Linked DNA regions of Homo sapiens. The protein of the gene in region 1 purifies or fractionates together with the protein of each later gene. This does not show direct contact. Each region holds a gene or a part of one and is shown on either strand. Other genes may lie near its edges. The genes, in order: NAA15 and FAM114A2.

Region 1 (3,830 bases):
TCAGAGTATTCAACTGCTAAGATTTTATTTTTAATTTATTCAGCAGTGTGTGAAAGTAAAGATTTATCTGATACAGTTAGAACAGTATTAAAACAAGAAATGAATCGTCTTTTTGGAGCAACGAATCCAAAGAATTTTAATGAAACTTTTCTGAAAAGGAATTCTGATTCATTGCCACACAGATTATCAGGTAATCACTTTATTTTATCCTTAGCCTTCTAAAACAACTTCAGTAATTTTAATGAATCAACAATAATATAAGGTACATGTTTTTAGAATGGAAGAGGCAGTGTGTATATGTTACATTGTGATCGTATGAAAACAGGCAGCTTAAATAAGCTTCCTAAGCTGGGCACAGTGGCACATACCGGTAGTCCCAGCTACTCAGGATGCTGAGGCAGAAGGATCACTTGAGCCCAGGAATTTGAGGCCAGTCTGGGCAACATAATGATACCCTGTTTCAAATCAAAACAAAACCAAACATATATATATATAATATATATATATATATAATATATATTATATATATATGCGCTTCCTATACATTTTTTAATTTCTTACGGCAAAATAATCACTACAAATCAAAGTCAGTGGTCTCTTCTGGTTCAGCATTGGCATTACAAAGAAGCAGGTGTAACTAAACTTAAATGTATATCATAAAATGAAGGTAGAGCTTTCTTTTATTTCTTTTTTCATCATTGGGCTCTTAAAATTCACTCAGATAGGACCATCGTCTTCCATTTCTCATTCTTATGTAGGTATCAGAGTTGACAGTGCTAAACACCTGAAATTATCTTCACAGTTTGTGAGAAATCTAAGTCAAGGGTCTGTGCCAATGAGCCAAAATCTGACCTTTATGGGACCATGTGGGTAGTACTTTTCAAATACTTGGCTTAAGCCCAGCAGCTTTGTATACCTTTGTGGAATCCTGAATTCAGCATTTTGGCTCACACTGTTGAGATAGGATAGTCCCCCAACCTCCACATTATTCTGCTTATTTCAGAAAGAAGACTATCATGGTCCTACCACAAAAATACAAGTATTATTAGAATGCTTGTGTTTCTTCATAGTCTCCTTTACTGTGCATGTGTTGCATATACATTCTATTTTATTGGGTAGATATATGTGGTATACCTCTATTGTTCTCTTTCTTTGGATGGTTAAGCTAATCCCCTTAGCATTATTATTTTTTGAATAACAGTATCTCAAGTAGCTGTTCCCATTCTTCTAATAAAGTGCCACACCCTCTGCATATATATCTTGTTTGCCTTTTATATTTAAATAAGTAGAGGATAAGATGTTGGTTTTACCTTGAAATAAATTTCCTATTTCCCTCTCATTTAGCTGCCAAAATGGTATATTACTTAGATCCTTCTAGTCAGAAGCGAGCTATAGAGTTGGCAACAACACTTGATGAATCTCTCACTAACAGAAACCTCCAGGTAAAGAGTTTTTCATAATCTCTCTGTAAGAATACTTAACTACTTTTTTCACCAAGAGAAATAATTGGGTATTTATACACACTGTTTTTTAAATCATTATGAATCTGGGTCAGAAACAACTTATCTTAAAATTTATTTAGGCTGCTTGGCATTCAGTAACTAGTTTCACATCTGTAGCTTGGAATAACTTTTTAAGAAATATGTTTTAATAAAATCATATACATTCCATCGTCATTTTTGGATTTCATTTCATATCTCTGCATTTCTGAGCAAGCAGTGGTCTCAGTGGAGATTCTAACATGTTTAAAATGTATTTTGGCTAGGCGTTTTGGTTCATGGCCTATATTCCCAGCACTTTGGCAGGCCAAAGTGGGCAGATCACTGCAGCTCATGAGTTCGAGACAAGCCAGGGCAACATAGTGAGACCCCATCTCTTAAAAAAAAAAATCAGTCAGATGTGGTGGCACTGTATTCCCAGCTACTTGGGGGACTGAGATATGAGGAACACTTGAGCCTGAAAGGTTGGAGCTGCAGTGGGCTGTGATTGTGACGCTGTACTCCAGTATGGACAACAGGGCAAGACCCTATCTCAAAATAAAGAAAGATGTATTTACTAGGGGCTAAATAAAAATACTTATTTTGTAACTTGTAATACAATATGAGATTAAGTTAAATAAAAATTAATATGGGTGTATTGTAAAATACTGTAGTTTAAACTAGAAACAAAGGGATAGCTACCTCATGTTATAATTTGCCAGATAAACATGTATATGCTGAAAGACAGTTATTAATAAATATATTCATTTAATAGCAAATGAAGGCAGTATCTTTAAGAAAGAAAAATTAGACTTGTTTGTTTTACCATTTAGATTAGAACCTGGATTTAAAGTTCTAATCTAGGTCCTTTGTAACCTGGATTTAAGTTGCTTTGTAACCTGGCAAAGTTTGTAGGGATTTTTGCATGTGGAAACTAAGTAGCTTTTCTAAGTGAAAATATTAAGAAAGCAAACATGAGAAATGCAAATCAACATGAATCAACAAAAAAGATAAGAAGCAGACTTACTTAGGGGTTTGGTTGAAAGAATTACTCATTTTCATGAACTAATTTTTCTTGCAAATAATCACTTCATGTTTGAGACACTCTTTTCTGCTTAGTTATTGGATGTGCCTTAAGTTGCTCTTTAATTTGAACACAATGTTGAATACAGTGTTTGAGTTTGCTGGCTGGCTCTAAGCTTTCAAAAATATTAGAAGGCATATGTGCAGTAATTGGTATTGGCATTGTAAATCTAGATGTTTATACCCAGGGCCAGGCTAGGCTGAGGTAACATTGCTGCCTAAGGTCATACGCTTGCTGAGAGTGAGTGGCTTTTTAAATGTAGCACTCCATATACCTTGCTTGCCTCACCATAGTCCCATTCCTGTTTCTGCAGTCATCCCTGTTTAGCCTTTTGTATAAATCCTGCAATTCTGGAGAAATGGTTAAATTAGGCCTTGAAGAACATTCTAATAGAATGCATATGCAGGAGTAAATAGCTAAATATGTGTATTTATTTCTTATTTTAGAAATCTCTTGCTGTTGAAATGTCTAATAAATTCCCAGTAAGAACCTTTTTTTGACCAGTTACAACATGACTTTTTTTCTTTCCTTAGACATGTATGGAGGTATTGGAAGCCTTGTATGATGGTAGCCTAGGAGACTGTAAAGAAGCTGCTGAAATTTATAGAGCAAATTGTCATAAGCTTTTCCCTTATGCTTTGGCTTTCATGCCTCCTGGATATGAAGAGGATATGAAGATCACAGTTAATGGAGATAGTTCTGCAGAAGCTGAAGAACTGGCCAATGAAATTTGAACATCACTAAACAAGCAAATGGAATGACTTTGGACCATATCTAGTATATAATATTTTTGTCACGCACCTGCTGCATTGCTCTAACTTACACAGAATGAGAGGAGTAAATGTTCTTGCCTTCAAATAGTGTTTTACGTTTTTTATCCTGCTGAAAAAGTATATATAAAATATCTAACATTACAGGATAGAGGTTCAGTTTCTTAAAAAATTAAAGCTGCTAAAATTGAGTGGTTAAAAAAGATACCTTATCCTATTCCTCCCCACCCACCCATGTTTTTAAACTAATTTATATAAAATCTGGAGGCTGTTACAGCTAACAAAGCAGGTGTGTGGCAGAAATATTACTTTAAATTTGTCTTGTGAGATTTTACTATATCTCAGACAGCATAAATGCTGTTTTAGCACTGGATTCTTTCACTGAGCACAAAGAGTTGTTGGGGCTTTAGCATCTGACTGATTTTGTTACGGGGTTGATTCTGACCATAGGAAGTATGCAATGTGAATCACTATTTACAGAGAAACCTACAACAGATG
Region 2 (3,830 bases), on another chromosome or scaffold:
TAAGATATACACTAACTGACCTTTTTTTTTTAAAAAAGTGGAATCTAATGAATACAGTTTTGCCTTTTCTTCATGAAATAATCAGTTATAAACATTAAAAGTGAATGGAAAAATTCTCTCAGGTTTCATTAAGACATAGGGCCAATCACCCATGTAGTAGGTTAAATCAGTGATGAACAAAGTGTGGTCTGTAGACCCTTGAATTCCCAGAACCCTTTCAGGGAGTCTATGAGTCAGAACTCTGCATCATAATACTAAGATGTTGTCTACTTAGGAATTTTTTAAAAATTATAATGAGTTTTTTTTCTGCTTTGGCATTTGTGCTGTTGGTGAATAACAATGATGCATAAAATTGCTGGTGCCATAACATGGATCAAGATGTTAGCAGACTCTACTAGTGTCATTGCATTTTCATTGCCATGCATTGGCAGTTAAAAAAAAAAGTGCCAGTTTTATTTAATCTTGTCCTTGATGAAGCAGTAAAAATTATTAATTTTATTAAATCTTTACCTTTAAGTATGCATCTTACAAATATTCTGTGTGATGCCTACTGAAGTATGATGGTTGTCTCAGGAAAAGCACTTACATTATTTGAGTTGTGAGCTGAACTATGTGCTTTTTTCGTGGAATACCATTTTTACTTGAAAGGATAACAGTCACAGAGACTATTCAGAATAGGATAATTGGTACACATTTTCCTGAAAATGAATGAAGTGAACCTTTTCTTCAAGGAGAGCAACTAATTTATTTGTGAGTCATGATAAAAATTTAAGTGAAGGTTGAAACTTTGTAAAACATATTTGCTGCTGTGGTGAGCTTGACAGCTTCCCAGTGCTTATAGACTCTTCTTATGAAATTGGTGGTGATCATATTTGTTAAAATATCACTTTTTGATATTTTAACAAGGAAATGTGTCAGCATTTGGAAAGTCTGCATAACTCAGAGAACCAATATTTTCTAAATGTCAAATCACCATGGGTAAAAGACCTAATGGATTTTAATTTAGTGTACAAAATTTTATGATATGGTTTCAGGTATACTGCAATATGGTTCATTGCAACTAATTTTTAAGAAACGACCACTTGTTGAGTTTTAATGTGGTATTAAAGAATATTAATAATGATCTGAAAAGGCTATTAAAATACTTCTTCCCTTTCCAACTATGTATCTTTGTAAAGTTGGATTTTCTTCATATACTTAAAGCAACATAACAGACTGAATATAAAAGTAGATAAGAGAATTTAGCTGTCATCTGTTAAACTAGATATTAAAGAGATTCAACCCTGATGGCACTGTTCTCACTAAACTTTTTCTTTTTTGAAAAATATAGTTTTTTAAAATAAAAAGTAGGTTTATGTTAATAAGTGGTATGGGTTTACTGTTTTGAATGAATTAATAAACACTTTGTTTTAGCTTTATATAAATATTTATAACTTTTTATATGTATATGTATAAAACTTACACTAAAAAAGCTCTTTAATGTTCTCAGAAAGTTTTACAAGAACAAGGTCCTGAGACCAACAAGTTTGAGAATTACCAGATTAAATGACCTAAACTGCAATGCTTTTTAGAAATGTCTCTGATTGCTTTTTAGAATTGTACATCTTTATTTCTTTCTGTTCATTTATCTGTTCATCTTTTACTTCACTGTTAGCTGGCTTCTGATATCCCCTGAATCTTATTTGGTTTTCTATTTCTAATCTGTGGGTGAGAAACCAGGTAACTAATTTTATTTGAGATGTCTATTAAAAGCAAAGAGCTCTGAGTGAGGGTCTTAGAGTCTTTCTTGTGACAGGAAACATAAAGTTAACTGTGTGGATTCTCTACAAACAGGGACTTTTTTTTCTTTTTCTTTTTAAATCAGTTAAGGAGAAGAAATATACATGTATATCATTTATAATTACATAGTTATCTTTACCAGTGCTTTTTGTCTTCTGTTTTTTTCAATTTTTTTTATTTCCATAGGTTATCAGGGAACAGGTGGTGTTTGATTACATAAGTTCTTTACTGGTGATTTGTGAGAATTTGGTGCACCTATCACCTGAGCAGTATACACTGCACCCAATTTGTGCACCTGAGCAGTATACACCACACTCCCTTCCCATCCTTTCCCCCTGAGTCCCCGAAGCCCATTGTGTCATTCTTAAGCCTTTGCATCCTCATAGCTTAGCTCCTACTTGTGAATGAGAGCATATGATGTTTGGTTTTCCATTCCTGAGTTACTTTACTTAGAACAATAGCATCCAGTCTCATCCAGGTCGCTGCGAATGCATTAATTCATTCGTTTTTATGGCTGAGTAGTATTCCATCATGTATATATATACCACAGTTTCTTTATCTACTCGTTGATTGATGGGCATTTGAGTTGGTTCCACATTTTTGCACTTTTGAATTGTGCTGCTTAAACATGCGTGTGCAAGTATCTTTTTCTTTTTTAAATTATTTTATTAGTATACTTTAAGTTTTAGGGTACATGTGCACAACGTGCAGGCCTGTTACGTATGTATACATGTGCCGTGTTGGTTTGCTGCACCCATCAACTCATCATTTATGTTAGGCACTTCTCCCAATGCTATCCCTCCCCCATCCCCTGACCCCACGACAGGCCCAGGTGTGTGATGTTCCCCGCCCTGTGTCCAAGTGTTCTCATTGTTCAGTTCCCACCTATGGGTGAGAACAAGTGGTGTTTGGTTTTCTGTCCTTGTGATAGTTTGCTCAGAATGATGGTTTCCAGCTTCATCCATGTCGCTACAAAGGACATGAACTCATCCTTTTTTATGGCTGCATAGTATTGCATGGTGTATATGTGCCACATTTTCTTAATCCAGTCTATCATTGATGGACATTTGGGTTGGTTCCAAGTCTTTGCTATTGTGAATAGTGCTACAATAAACATATGTGTGCATGTGTCCTCATAGTAGCATGATTTATAATCCTTTGGGTATATATCCAGTAATGGGATCACTGGGTCAAATGGTATTTCTAGTTCTAGATCCTTGAGGAATCACCACACTGTCTTCCACAATGGTTGAACTAGTTTACACTCCCACCAACATTGTAAAAGCATTCCTATTTCTTCACATCCTCTCCAGCACCTGTTGTGTCCTGACTTTTTAATGATCGCCATTCTAACTGGTGTAAGATGGTATCTCATTGTGGTTTTGATTTGCATTTCTCTGATGACCAGTGATGATGAGCATTTTTTCACGTGTCTATTGGCTGCATACATGTCTTCTTTTGAGACATATCTGTTGATATCCTTTGCCCACTTTTTGATGGGGTTGTTTGATTTTTTCTTGTAAATTTGTTTAAGTTCTTTGTAAATTCTGGATATCAGCCCTTTGTCAGATGGGTAGATTGCAAACATCTTCTCCCATTCTGTAGGTTGCCTGTTCACGCTGATGGTAGTTTCTTTTGCTGTGCAGAAGCTCTTTAGTTTAATTAGATCCCATTTATCTGTTTTGGCTTTTGTTGCCATTGCTTTTGGTGTTTTAGTCATGAAGTCCTTGCCCATGCCTATGTCCTGAATGGTATCGCCTAGGTTTTCTTCTAGGGTTTTTATGGGTTTAGGTCTAAGTCTAATCCATCTTGAATTGATTTTTGTATAAGGTGTAAGGAAGGGATCCAGTTTCAGCTTTCTCCATATGGCTAGCCAGTTTTCCCAGCACCATTTATTAAATAGGGAATCCTTTCCCCATTGCTTGTTTTGGTCAGGTTTGTCAAAGATCAGATGGTTGTAGATGTGTGATGTTATTTCTGAGGCCTCTGTTCTGTTCCATTGGTCTATATTTCCCGTTTGGTACCAGTACCATGCTGTTTTGGTTACTGTG

The links.
Region 2: the proteins of NAA15 (region 1) and FAM114A2 fractionate together in Homo sapiens (co-fractionation; one large-scale study listed by BioGRID). This does not show direct contact.

The regions. Positions count from the first base shown.
Region 1 is NC_000004.12:139,384,789-139,388,618, forward strand, and holds part of NAA15 (N-alpha-acetyltransferase 15, NatA auxiliary subunit), read left to right. Parts: intron 1-43; coding exon 44-190; intron 191-1,344; coding exon 1,345-1,442; intron 1,443-3,095; coding exon 3,096-3,296; 3' UTR 3,297-3,830. UniProt on the Homo sapiens protein: Auxillary subunit of N-terminal acetyltransferase complexes which display alpha (N-terminal) acetyltransferase (NAT) activity. The NAT activity may be important for vascular, hematopoietic and neuronal growth and development.
Region 2 is NC_000005.10:154,021,905-154,025,734, reverse strand, and holds part of FAM114A2 (protein FAM114A2), read left to right. Parts: intron 1-3,830.